2 separate regions of the Homo sapiens genome follow, and region 2 is linked to region 1. Evidence: fine-mapped expression QTL. Tissue or cell type: whole blood. Region 1 holds a variant in brackets; the other region holds the start of a gene. All regions are shown on one strand. Distances are from middle to middle.

Region 1 (7,255 bases):
TAAATTCAATGACTTCTAAACTGGAAGAAACATTCCCAGCCGTGGAAGTTGGGAATATCACTCTTGGTGACTATGACAGAAAGAGATTCCATGATTTCACGTAGCTCTGGCCCTGCACACTGGGTGTGGTGCTGACACTCACTTTGCCCTTGTGGGTCTCCTGGAGCCACTGGCGAAGTCTAATGAGGCAGCTCTCCTGCAGCGGAGTCAAATCGCCCAGGTATCTCTTGATGTAGTCGGCATCTAGTTTGTCTGGAATGTAAGTGACATTTATTTACAACAAAGAACACTGGAGCTTTAGGCTCCCAAAGTCTTTGTGCTCAGTGGAGTTAACGTGTGGTCCTAGAGTCCTAGAGGCACATGAAACCGCAGAGATGGCAGATGTAAACCAGATTCCTTAGAGGACTTGAGGGATAGGCTCTGAGATCAAATCACTGACTAAACCACAGGTACACTTTCTGACTCAATTATCTTTCCCTGATTACCACTGAGTTACCTCTATTGCCAAATCACAATACTATTCATGACTATAATAGATATTAATGACTGTTTTAATTCCAAGAGGAACATAACACAAAAAGGACTTGCAAGATATAAAATTTATGGAAAAAAAAAAGCCAAGCAAATCTAAATCTATTTTGAATGGAGCTACTGTGTTGGAGAATGTAAGAAATCTGGTGGCTCACGCCTGTAATCCCAGCTACTCAGGAGGCTGAGGTGGCCAGATCACCTGAGATCAGGAGTTCAAGACAAGCCTGGCCAACATGGTGAAACCCCGTCTCTACTAGGAATATAAAAATTAGTCAGGCGTGGCGGTGCAGGCTTATAATCCCAGCTACTCAAGAGGCTTAGGCAGGAGAATCACTTGAACCCAGGAGACGAAGGCTGCACTGAGCCGAGATTGTGCCACTACACTGCAGCCTGGGCGACAGAGACTTTTTTATCTCAAAAATAAAAAAATAAAAAAATTAGTCAGGCGTGGTGGCACATGCCTGTGGTCCCAGCTACTCGGGAGGCTGAGGCAGGAAAATCACTTGAACCCGGGAGACGGAGGTTGCAGTGAGCCAAGATGGCACCACTGCACTCCAGCCTGGGCAACAGAGCAATACTCTATCTCAAAACAAACAAACAAACAAACAAAAAAAAACACCTTCCTTAGGCCAGGTGTGGTGGCTCACACCTATAATCCCAGCACTTTGGGAGGCCGAGGCAGAAGGATTGCTTGAGCCCAGGAGTTCAAGACCATCCTGGGCAACACAGTGAGACCCCATTTCTTAAACAAACAAACAAACACCTTCTGGTATCCATAAAAGAATAAAAATAACTTGATATAATCCTTCCTATTAACAAAAAATCTAATAAAAGGTAAAATGAATGTATTACATAAGCGAGAGGACAAGGGCCAGAAACGAGAGACGGGTCTTTCCTTTCTGAGTTATCTAATGTTCCAAGGAAGCGGGAACAGGCAGAGCAAACAGAGAGAAAACGGCAACGCCGACTTCCCTAGCCTTGCTCTCGGGATGAAGCCCCTGCCAGACCCACCGTCAGGGGTGCCCACCACGGGCTCAGGTGCGCTGGGGCTGCTGAGGGCATCACCACTCAGCCCCTCCTTGAGGGCAGCTTCTGGGATGACGACGGCCATGGACGCTGCTTGTTTCTTGGAGGATGATGAAGATGTCTCTGAAGAGGTCGTGATGGAAGGCGGACTCCAACGGGGCACAAAGGTTATGCCTTCTTCTTCTAATTGGCGAAGGTAGTATTCGATGATTTCCTTTCCCTTTAAAACAAAACCAATTTAAAGGTGAGTATATATTCAACATTCAAATTACTCATCTCTCCCAAGATTTTTCTTTTTTTCTAGCCAACGGAAGATGGTGAGCCTCACAATCTTTTTTTTTTTTTGAGACAGGGTCTCGCTTTGTGGCCCAGGCTAAAGCACAGTGGCATGATCACAGCTCACTGTACCCTTGACCTCCTGGACTCAAGCCATCCTACCTCAGCCTCCCCAGTAGCTGGGACTACAGGTATATGCCACCTCATCCGGCTAATTTTTGTATTCTTTGTAAATACGGGGTTTCGCAATGTTGTCCAGGCTGGTCTCGAACTCTTGGGCTCGAGCAATCTGTCCACCTCAGCCTCCCAAAGTGCTGGGATTACAGGCATGAGCCAGTGCGCCCAGTCCCTCACAAGCTTTTAAAACACCAATAAAACTGAATTGCTACAAAATTAATAGAAAAAAAGAAAAGGCCAAATGCTTCTGTGTTTTTGTTTATTTTACTTGTTATTTTCCAAGGTTTAGGAAATGGTATCTAATGAGATGGAATTTTTATATGACTATTTTAAAATGCTGATTTAGGGTACTTGTACTCAATATATGATTTCTGTCTCAATTTCAATTCTTTCCAACACAGTACCCTGAAAATGAGCCTTCAAAAACCACTCCATAATCCCACACGGATAGATTTCAAAACCACAATTCCCTAACAACTGATGAACAACAGCACAAAAACGAGAAAGGAAGGTCTTCTGTGGAAGAACTGACAATCCAAGGGGGGCAGCCTGCTCGGCAAGCACCTCCCCAGGCCCCCAGGCCTCCTCCCAATCCTGCAGCAAGGCCTGGGGGCTGTGTGCCAGCTGCTGCTGCCTCTCCCCAACTTCTAACTCTCTCAGCAACTCCAGGCAGACAGTGCCATTGCTAGAGCTACAGGCACCTCCTTCCTCCATCAGCAACCAGCACAACCTCAACCCCTATACCTAAAGATGAGGCAGGGGGTAGGGATCATAGCATCTTCCACCCAAGAAATGCTGCAAATCCCTTGCTAAGCCATCCCCAGCCTTCCAAAAAGATGGTCATCTCAGAGACTCCTGCCCACCCTCTGCCACAAAATCCCAAGATACACTCACTTTTTTAATGTTGCTGGTATATTGTTTCATTGCAATTTTTTCCACTGTACTTTCAAAACCAAAGAAAGATTTAATATCTAAACTTGCAGACTGTTCAAAACAGGTCCAATCTTCATTTTCAGGGTGAACCTGCAGATAAAGAGAAAGCACTCTCACTGACTGAATTGACAACAGAATATCATCTGCCTGCTCCTCAGTTTAACCAGTAACCAGAAAAAAACACTTACGTTACTAACAATGCTACTACCATAAAGACAGCAGATGGAAAAAATGCCAAAATCATGTTCAAAATCAGGATCAAAAGCACATTCTAAATCATGAAGAGATCCAAATAATTGTTCAAAAACATTTCAAAGATGACTATAAAAGGAGAGCTTCATTTTCATTCTTGCTTCATTCATTCATTCAACATACTCACTGAACAGTCTTCTCCATCATGAACAAAGAGGTATTGGCCTTGGAAGCTTTCAACAGAGTCTAACAGAGGAGACAATCAGCCAGAAACACAGTATGCAAGGAAATTAAAGATAAGTAAGTGCTATGGAAAAAAGAAAACTTGGAGCACAGGCTAAAAGAACCAGGGATGGGGGTCAGGCATGATGGTTCACACCTGCAATCCCGACACTTTGGGAGGCCAAGGTGGGAGGATCACTTGAGTCCAGGAGTTTGAGACCAGCCTGGGCAACAGAGCAAGACCTCATCCCTACAAAAAAATTTAAAAACTAGCCAGGCACGGTGGCATGTGCCTATAGTCCCAGCTACTTGGGAGGCTGGGGCAGGAGGATCACTTGAGCCTGGGAGGTGGAGGCTGCAGTGAACTGATTGTTCCACTGCACTCCAGCCTGAGCGACAGGGCAAGATCCCATCCCTGAAGAAAAAAAAAAAAGCCTGGGGGTTGGGGAGTCAGGCTGCAGAATTAAATGGGTGGCTGGGGCTGGCCAAGAAGGGGTGACCTGAGCCGAGATGGGAGGAGGTGAGACTAGAGACGTAGGGAAGAATAGCACGGCACAG[C/G]GAGCACCTTGGAGCCAAAGCCCCTGGGGGAGGCCCACTGCATGACAGCAAGGACAGGAAAGGCGTAACCAGGAGAGAACTCAGGCCCTTGCAAGTCACCATAAAGACTATGGGCTCTTCCTCTGGGCGAACTGTGGAAACACTCCAGGGTTTTGAGCCCATAGAAGTGACTTAATCTGACATACTTTAAATAGATCACTTTGAATTCAGTGTTAAGGATACACTGCAGGGGAGAAGGGCAGAAATACAGCAATCTGTCAGGAGAGTATTCTAAAAATCTGATAAAAGAAGTTCTTGAAACAGGGTGGTAAGCAGTGAAGATACTGAGACAGACAAACACTCTCGGCACTATTCTTAAAGGCACACATCTTAGTCCTTCATTAGATATTTCTAACATATTACAGTAAGACCAGAAAAGAAGTGGCATATGAATGTAATATTTAAGGCCAGGCGTGGTGGCTCACGCCTGTAATCCCAGCATTTTGGGAGGACGAGGCAGACGGATCATGAGGTCAGGAGTTGGAGACCAGCCTGGCCAACATGGTGAAACCCTGTCTCTACTAAAAATACAAAAATTAGCCGGGCGTGGTGGCGAGTGCCTGTAATCCCAGCTACTTGGGAGGCTGGGGAATGAGAATAACTTGAACCTGGGAGGCAGAGGTTGCAGTGAGCTGAGACTGTGCCACTGCATTTCAGCCTTGGTGACAAGAGTGAGACTCCATCTCAAAAAAAAAAAAAATTAGGCCAAGGGGTGGATCACGTGAGGTCAGGAGTTCCAGACCAGCCAGGCCAACACGGTGAAACCCCATCTTTACTAAAAATACAAAAATCAGCCTGGCGTGGTGGCGCTTGCCTGTAATCCGAACTACTAGGGAGGCTGAGGCAGGAGAATCACTTGAACTCGGGAAGCAGAGGTTGCAGTGAGCCGAGATTGCACCACTGCACTCCGGCCTGGGCGACAGAGGGAGACTGTGTCTCAAAAAAGAAAAAAAAAACAAAACCAAATCAAGGCATCACTTGGCTGCCTTAACTGCCACGACAACATAATACACTCTGCAGGAGACCACACCTGCTACCCTTCCTCCTACACATGAGAAATGAGTGACAACATCTAATGAAGAACTGCCCTCTAAGACAAAAAGATGCACTGTTTAAAATGGTGATCAAACAATCCTCAGAAGCCATATGTCGGCAGAACATCTTCCGCCGAGTGACAGATTACTCACGGTGTAGCAGCAATGCTCATTAATGATGACCCGATTGGAAAACGTTTCATTATAAGCCTCAATGTGCAAAGTACGTTCCCGAGAATTCAGTGAGTTTTTCTGGACAAAATAAACATAATCAACTCCTGCAATCTTCAAAAAAAAAAGAAAGAGAAATGGGTTTATTAATAACAACCAATAGCACAGAAGCTATAGTATAAGTTCATGTTGTCTCTGGGGGCTGCCCTCCAGGACGCCCTCTCCCTCCAGGACGCCCTCTCCCTCCAGGATGCCCTCTCCCTCCAGGACGCCCTCTCCCACCAGGACGCCCTCTCCCACCAGGACGCCCTTTCCCTCCAAGACGTCCTTTCCGACCTTTACCTTCTTCAGCAGTCTGGGTGCATCTACATCCAGCTTGCAGCGCCTTTCAATGACATGAATAGCCCCATCTTCGCTCTTGAATTCATTCACAGTGTCACTGCCCACGAACATCGGAATCAAAGGACATGTAGGGAACCTCCTTTCATAGGCCTATAAATTTAAAAACCAAGAAAGCAGAAGTGAGCAAAGACACAACCTGATGTCCTGCCGCTGACTGTGTTCTCCCTGGAACAGCACCTCTCGGTGCACGGCAACAGGCAGCGCCACAACTGTCTTCACATCTGAAGCTTTCATTAAAGAAGAAAAAGACACTCCATGTCCATGGATCGGAAGATTCAACCTAGTAAAGATCTCAATTCTCCCCATAAGTAACATCATTCCTAACAAAACCCCAGCAAGACTTTGTGGTAATTATAGACAAGATTGTTTTAAAATTTATATGGAAAGACAAAGGAACTAGAACAACTAAAACGATTTTGAAAAAGATGAATAAACTGGGAAGAATCAGTCACCCCGGTATTAAGGCTTACTCTATAACTACAGTAATCAAGACCATCTAGTATTAGGAGAGGGGTAACTGACATACAGATCTATGGGACAAAATACAGAACCCAGAAATAGACTCAAACAAATACACCCAACTGATTTATTTTTTAGTATCTGCACCTGTCAGGGAACACCGACTGATTTTCAACAGAGATGTAAAAGCAATGAGGGAAAGAAAGCACGCCAGTCTTTTCAACATGTTACTGGAGCAATTACACATCCATAGGCTGAAACAATAATAACAATGAATCTTGATCTAAACCTCACACCTTGTATAAAAATTAACTCAAAGATCAGCGACTTAAATGTAAAACACAAAACTAAAACTTTTAGGGAAAAAAAATAGAAAATCTTTGGGATCCTGGGCTAGGCAAAGAATTCTTAGATGTGACAACAAAATCACAATCCACAGGAGAAAAAATATATAAAATGAACTTCCTCAAAGTTAAAAACATTTGCTCAGCGAAAGACCCTGTTAAGGCCGGGCGCGGTGGCTCACGCTTGTAATCTCAGCACTTTGGGAGTCTGAGGTGGGCAGATCATGAGGTCAGGAGATTGAGACCATCCAGGCTAACACGGTGAAACCCCGTCTCTACTAAAGATACAAAAAATTAGCCGGGCGTGGTGGCGGGCGCCTGTAGTTCCAGCTACTCAGGAGGCTGAGGCAGGAGAATGGCGTGAACCCAGAAAGCGGAGCTTGCAGTGAGCCGAGATCGCGCCACTGCACTCCAGCCTGGGCGACAGAGTGAGATTCCATCTCAAAACAAAACAAAACAAAACCCCTGTTAAGAGAATGAAAAAACAAACTACAAAATGGGAGGAGGGATTTACAAACCATGTATCTGACAAAGGACTAGTGCCTAGAATACATAAAAAATTCTTAAAACTCAACATAAATACAGTGAGCCAGGAGAACACTGGTTTGGACTGAGCTCCTGCACCAGGCCCAGCAGACCAAACCAAAATGGAGTCCCTCTTGGTAACCTCCATACCACCAAGCCAAAAGTAAGTTGTTTATCTGACTTTGCAAGAAGTCAGGAGAAAGAGAACAGCAAATCCCCCAAATGGGCCAGTTTGGGCCAGCGTGGTAAGGAAGTCCCCTCTGCGTTAACCTTTACAAGGGAAGTCACTCTGAAACCACCCATCTGCTCTCTGTTCTCTGTGTCTGTTTCCCTCACCCCTTTTCTGTCTACAAAGCCAGCTTCCCC
Region 2 (7,255 bases), 52 kb after region 1:
ATTTGAATCGTGAGTAAAACTCCATCGCACAGTGCTCAGTTCTAACACCACCTAAAGTGAATTCACCCATAGGCAGAGCACTCTTCCACACGAGCAGCAAAGACCACACTCCATGTCCCTTTGCTACTCTAACGAAGGAAAAAAAGAGCACAACCCCGAGGAAGAAGTGCTTAGAATCCCACTTCTGTGTGTTCAAAGGGAGAATTAACTTCAATTCATACATTACCCTGAGGTGCATTTTTTTTAATAAGCAGATTTTTATTTTCAGAGGCTTGTATTTTAAAAACATTTTACACACTCTAGATACGGTTCATAAGCATAAAAACAGAGTAAGTTCAAGTGATGCCATGGAGACGAACAATAAATCTATAGATCATCAAATTCTAACACTGTACTTTATAAATAAGAAGCCAAAGAGTAAATTGAAATGTCAAGTACTTACAGCCATAATTAATTCAAAGGGGTATTTGTACACCCTCACTGGGGACTGGTATTTCTGCACCATGATTGCAATACAACAGCAACCCTCTCACACCTGCAAAACATAAATATATGTGATAAGTAACCACAATGCAGAAACAAATTATTAGTAAGTCTGCACTGACACATCATACCACACTCTAACGACAGAAAGAGACCACAATAGGTCATAATTCTATGCACACAAAAATGAAAAGATGATATTTAAATACATGAGGGCAGGGGGAGGTAATTAAACAATAAGAAAAAGCAGACAAAGCCCCAATGCAATGAGGCAAACAGTACTGGTGTGAGAGGGGTCCAATCCTCTCATTGGCTTACTGGGACTCTGCATTCATTACATGACCTGACCTGAGTCCTTTCCAGCAATGAACTGTTATGATTCTATTATTCTAATAACCAATATAATTAATGCTTGGATCATTTTCTCTTAAACAACTTCTACTAGAAGCCAAATAAAAATGATCTCGTGTTAAGATATTAGCTCTGGGAAAACAAAAATAAAACTGGAAAAAAATACTACTGTATCTCAAACTATGGAATACTCCTCAAAAGCTAGCTTCAAAGGAAACGTGTCAATTCCTATTTTCTAACTGTGTACACTACAGCTTTGGCGACCTGTCTTCGAGTGGCAGAGATGCCAAGTATTCTGGCTAAACAGGCTCCACTGAAATCTCTAGCCTCAGATAGCTAATATCCGTAAGTAATCGGTTAAATGTTCACACCTAATTCACAGTCAAGGAGCCCTCCTTATGGGTGCATAATCATTCTCTAGCGCCAGCCTACACGGATTGCTCTAAAAACACACCTGGACTTGCCAGTCCTCTGTCTCCCCTATTTAAAGTGAGAAAGAAAAATCGAATGAGCCTACCTGTCTTGTTGAGGATAATCATTAAGAATGGTACTTTATGCTGAACATGGTGAGAGGATATTCAAACATACAAAACTGAATATCCTCAAGGAGCCCGAAGTCTAGCTGTTAAAAAAAAAAGAGAGAGACAAATTACCAAGATGTATTTTATTTCAGAAACTTCCAAGATTCCTTTTTTTTTTTTTTTTTTTTTGAGACAGGGTGTCTCTCTGTTGCCCAAGGTGGAACACAGTGGCACAATCTCCACTCACTGCAGCCTCCACCTTCTAAGCTCAAGTGATCCTCCTGCCTCAGCCTCCCAAGTAGCTGGGACCACAGGCACGCACCACCATATATATTTTTTGTAGAAGGTTTCCCCATGTTGCCCAGGCTGGTCTCAAACTCCTGGGCTCAAGGGATCTGCCCACTTCAGCCTCCCAAAGTGCTAGGATTATAGTCATGAGTCACGGCGCCTGGTATAGAATTCCCATCTATAGTACTAAGGTTTAAACAGGTTTGGAACTTTCTCTGGTATGTCTGGCATACCTCTCAGAGGAGAGGTCATGGTGGAAAACATCGCCATCTGACAGTGTGAAAACGGCTAAGGAATGACTCTGGGTGACCACGAGTAAGCCATTTGACTTCCCTAGGACTCAGTTTCATCTCTGTAAAATGAGGTTTTCGGGGAGATGATCTTGAAAGACTTCCACCTCTAAAACCATGAGAATGAGAGCCAAACTCCCAAGTTCTCCAAACTCAACTTGAAGCTTTTCTAATATTCATCTTGATTATGCGACTGACACATCCTGATGTGCTGGGACCACGTTCTTTTTCTTTTGCAAACCTTACAGTGTTGGTGCACAGTGGGAATCCAATCATCTTTTAAAAATTTAATTGGGAATATTAATTTTAGGGTACTCTCCCAGATATGAGGACGATAACCGGGTACAAACAAGAGTTGGGGGAAGAAGCAAAAAAGCGTAATGCTCGTTTAAGAAACGGTAACATCCATTCAGGATTCCACCGCCTGGCAGAACTGGCTACACTCACTTAAGAACCTGCTAATTCACGAGCTTGTGAACCACAGCCAGGTCTCAGCTGCCGATGCTCTGGTCCAGATAAACGCCCTACGCGGGCATCCGGAGTGACAACGACCAAGTGGCATCCAGGAGCCGGACGGCCTCCATTGCATGACAATCGCTGTTTAAACAGGAGCCAAAGGCCAGACCCACTGAACGCATCCCGAGCAGGCTCGAGGGGCGGCCGGCGCCCGGGGCTGCTCAGCAGGGGTCCCGCGCGGCTGAGCCCCACGGGGCCAAAGCCCCGACCGACGGGAGAGAGGGGCGGGCACTGGCTCCGGACCCGAAACTCCGCTCTCAGCAAAAAGCGGCTCCCGGGAACTGGAAGCCTGGCGAGGTGGGGGTGGGGGCGGGGGAGGGGGGCGAGGGGCGGCGAGGGGCGAGCAGGGGGGCGGAGGGCGAGCAGGGGGGCGGGGGCACGGCCCGTTTCGGGTGCCGGGCCGATGGCAGCCGGGGCTGGGGAGGGACAGGCTCAGCAAGCGGGCGGCCGGGAGTTCCGGGGGGCCCGCCCGAGAGGCGCCGGACTCCACGGAGACCGGGACCGGGGCGAGGGCGCACTCGGACCCGCCGCGACGACGCGCCTACCTCTTGTCAGAAAGGCCGGGCCTGGGACACGGGGTGGCGAGGGGCGCTCATACCGGCGGCTCCGCGGGGCAGTCTCGGTTCCACTGCTCCGCGACCGTAGCTCGACCGCCGGTTCCGGGGAGGGGGCCGGGGAGGCGGGAGGGGGAAGGGGCGCGGCGACGGCACTTGTGGTTGTTACGGGTGACGGGGTGGGCGGGGCCGGGCGCCGGGAGGGGCGCGCGTGCGCGGCCGCGGCCGAGGGAGCGGGGGCGGGAGCGGGCGATGGTTGCTAAGAAAGGGGAGGGGGGAGGACACCCGGGGCCCGAACTGCGCAGGCGCGAGCTCCGACCCGCGAGCGTGGGAGGAGCTCGGAGAAGGCGCCGGCCCCGTCGCACTGCTGGATGTGCCCGAGGTCCTCGTGGCCCCTCCCAGTTTTGCGTCACTTGTTGGGGGCGGGGCCGGGCTGGGCTTCGCGAGTAGCGGGCGGAGGCGGAGTGAAGCCCCAAGGGGCTGCCGGCGTGCAGGGGAGGGGTTCGGCTGAGCGGGAAAAGGGAAGTTTGCGGGAGGTCAAAACCACCGGGGCCCTCCCGTATGGCTGCTGCTCTGAGGCCTGCCTCTGGTCGCCCTGGCGGCTGCCCCCGTGCTTCCTCATTTCTTGTTGACTGTTCAGGAGCACCAGGCTGCTCGCGCCAGTGCCCCGACCGCATTCTCGCCGAGTAATGGGGAGGAGGCGGACGCCGGTGCTGCGCGGCCCAGGGCTCGGGAGGGCCCGGGTGAGCCCGGGTGGAGCCCAGCGGCATCCTTGTCAACACATCCAGACGGCTCTAGTGTCGGGCCGCGGGCTTGAAACTGAGACGCGCGCCCAGGGCCTGCCCCTCGGAAACGAGGGTGCCAAGGTGGGGCTGCTAAGTAGCTCCCGAATTTCAGCAGGAGAGCACCGTCCAGCCCCAATTTTCAATCCGGTACCACTGAGACATTTTGGGGTCCTTAAGAGGAGCTCATGACTAGAAAGGGGCACCTCGCATGCCCACCCACACAGCAAAGCTGGTTTTATAACCAACATGCAATTTCACTGTCAAAGTCACTGTTGTTCCGTTCACATTAGTCACCCTGAGTGGCTGTACATTTCATGCTGCCATTGGACAGAACGTTTTTGGACCTGTTTAGGAATTTCCATCAAAGCCAGTTTACCAGACACACAAGCAAATCATTCATGGCCTCATCACCCCTTGTGTTCCACGTCAAACCATCATCTTCCAGCTGGGTCACCTACATTATTCACTACATTCAGTCTGACTGGCTTTTGCTTGTTTGTAGAAATCACATCCACCGGCCGGGCGCGGTGGCTCACGCCTGTAATCTCAGCACTTTGGGAGGCCGAGGTGGGCGGATCACGAGGTCAGGAGATCGAGACCATCCTGGCTAACACGGTGAAATCCCTGTCTCTACTAAAAATACAACAGATTAGCCGGGCGTGGTGGCGGGCGCCTGTAGTCCCAGCTACTTGGGAGTCTGAGGCAGGAGAATGGCGTGAACCCTGGAGGCAGAGCTTGCAGTGAGCCGAGATCGCGCCACTGCACCCCAGCCTGGTCGACAGAGCGAGACTCCGTCCCAAAAAAAAAAAAAAAAATCACATCCACCTTCAAAAGACGCTTTAACGCCGTTGCGGTGGCTCACGCCTGTAATCCCAACAGTCTGGGAGACCTAGGTGGGTGGATCACCTGAGGTCAGGAGTTTGAGACCATCCTGGTCAACACGGTGAGACCTCGTCTCCACTAAAAATACAAAAAGTAGCCGGGTGTGGTGCCAGATGCCTGTAATCCCAGCTACTTGGGAGGCTGAGGCAGGAGAATCACTTGAACCTGGGCAGAGGTTGCAGTGAGGCAAGATCACGCCACCTGCCCTGCACTCCAGCCTGGGCTGGACTCCAGCAAGACTCCGTGTCAAAAAAAAAAAAAAAAAAAAAAATTCACCTGACCTGCTGAACTTCTAGATGCAACCACCAGTTTACAGGAAATACAGAATAGAGGAACATGCTAAATGACACCATGAAAAACAATTGGCAAAGTACAGACTGTGGGAAACGGTACAAGACAAATATATTCTTTATCAAATTCCAAAGGAAAAAAAGAGGGGAATGGTCAATCTATAGATTAAAAGAGATTGGGAAATTTGTTGAGCCATACATTCATTTATGATTTGCAAGCTTTTATATGTATATTATACTTCAGTTAAACATTTTGAAGAAAAAACAGACTTGAGACATCAACCAATCACAAAAAACTTTATTTCCATTTTTTTTTTCTTGAAACAGTCTCACTCTGTTCCCCAGGCTTGAGGGCAGTGGCATAATCATAGCCGTCTGCAGCATCATCACCTGGCCTCAAGTGAACCTCCCACCTCAGCCTTCTGAGTAGCTGTGACTACAGGCATGTGCCACCACGCCTGGCTACTTTTTGCTATTTTTTTCCTTAGGTTTTTTTTGTTTTTTTGTTTGTTTGTTTGTTTTGAGATGGAGTCTTACTCTGTTGCCCAGGCTGGAGTGCAGTGGCACGATCTTGGCTCACTGCAACCTCCACCTCCTGGGTTCAAGTGATTCTCCTGCCCTCCTGCCTCAGCCTCCCGAGTAGCTGGGATTACAGGCGAGTGCCCAGCTAATTTTTTTATTTTTAGTAGAGACGGGCTTTCACCATGTTGGTCAGGCCGGTCTCAAACTCCTGACCTTGTGATCTGCCTGCCTCAGCCTCCCAGAGTGGTGGTATTACAGGAGTGAACCACAGCACCCTGCCCACCAACCTCCTACTTGCCTGGGGACTAGATTGCCTTTGTAGGACTAACATTAGCCACAAATTAGAAATTATGGTTTAGGAGTCATGCAGCTGGAGGCTACAAGATTCTGACCCTCCCTAAACTGCTCCTAAGATCAGTGCTTGAGACATTTTGCAGATCCTCCCCTTGATGGCTCAGCTGGCACCACCCAGATCAACAAACAGGCTCATCTGATCTTGTGGCCCCCGCCCAGGAACTGACTCAGCACAAGAAGACAGCTCCGACTCCCTATGATTTCCTCCCTGACCAATCAGCACTCCTGGCTCACTGGCCTCCCCCGACCCACCAAGTTGTCTTTAAAAACTCTGCTCCCTGAATGTTCAGGGAGACTGATTTGAGTAATAATAAAACTCCAATCTCCTGCACAGCCAGCTCTGTGTGAATGACTCTATTGCAATCCTCCTGTCCTGATGAATCAGCTCTCTCTAGGCAGCAGGGAAGGTGAACCCCTTGGGTGGTTATACTGTTATCCAGAGAAGGGGGTTATATGTAAAGATAAGCAATCTTTTGTTACAATAAATGCTTTTTCAGGAATTTGTTGAGGCAAACAGTGAAAGCACGTATTGGTTTACAGTCTAATATTCCTGAACAAGAATCTCCTGGATCAAATAGTAAGTCATGTTGACACAGAGATCTTAGGTCTCAGTCCTGATGGCTAAGCTGTGTGGATGCAGGTGGTCTTATTCCTCATGATCAGGAATGTAGGCCCTGAGATAGTCTGAACTCAAATCTCATGTTGAATTGTAATCCACAGTGTTGGAGGTCTGGCCTGGTGGGAGGCGTTTGGGTCATCAGATCCCTCATGAATGGCTTGGGCCATCCCCTTGGCCATAAGTGAGCTCTCTCTAAGTTCACATGAGATCTTCTCACTTAAAAATGGGTGGCACCTCCCCCTACTCTCTGGAGCTTCTGCCTGCTTTCACCATGTGACCTGCCTGTTCCCCCTTCTCTCCTTCCACCAAGACTAAAAGCTCCCTGAGGCTTCACCAGAAGCTAAGCAGATGCCAGCGCCATGCTTCCTGAACAGCCTGTGGAACCTCTTAAGCACTATTTGAACATATAATGATACTAAGAAATTACTGCTTTCTTGTGGCTGAGCGTGGTGGCTCACGCTTGTAATCCCAGCACTTTGGGAGGCCAAGGCAGGTGGATCCCCTGAGGTTGGGAGTTTAAGACCAACCTGACCAATATGGAGAAACCCCGTCTCTACTAAAAATACAAAATTAACCAGGCATGGTGGCACATGCCTATAATCCCAGCTACTCTGGAGGCTGAGGCAGGAGAATTGCTTGAACCTGGGAGGCAGAGGTTGCGGTGAGCCGAGACCGCACCATTGCACTCCAGCCTGGGCAACAAGAGCGAAACTCTGTCTCAAAAAAAAAAAAAAAGAAAGAAAAAGAAATTATTGCTTTCTCTTAAGAATGCCAATTAAACTTTTTTTCTTTATAAATTA

What was found. PIP is the estimated chance that this variant, and not a neighbour inherited with it, causes the effect.
Region 2: it holds the start of SEC14L1, and the variant in region 1 is fine-mapped to the expression of SEC14L1 in whole blood (TOPMed, PIP above 0.99).

Annotation. Positions count from the first base shown.
Region 1 is chr17:77,189,199-77,196,453 of GRCh38, reverse strand. SEC14L1 (SEC14 like lipid binding 1) reads right to left here. Exons shown (of 17, transcript NM_001143998.2): 4 at 5,502-5,651; 5 at 5,142-5,273; 6 at 2,905-3,033; 7 at 1,543-1,777; 8 at 143-252. Among named protein-coding and RNA genes, the nearest start is that of SEC14L1, 52 kb to the right of the region's middle. The variant C/G (reference allele first, on the strand shown) is at 3,916.
Region 2 is chr17:77,136,847-77,144,101 of GRCh38, reverse strand. It overlaps SEC14L1 (SEC14 like lipid binding 1), which reads right to left and starts at 3,133. Exons shown (of 17, transcript NM_001143998.2): 1 at 2,995-3,133; 2 at 1,352-1,456; 3 at 443-535. The coding sequence starts at 505. LOC105371901 (a long non-coding RNA gene) reads left to right here and starts at 2,663. Exons shown (of 5, transcript XR_934988.3): 1 at 2,663-2,746. RefSeq lists silencers at 2,361-2,655, 2,820-3,269, 3,280-3,489, 3,640-3,849.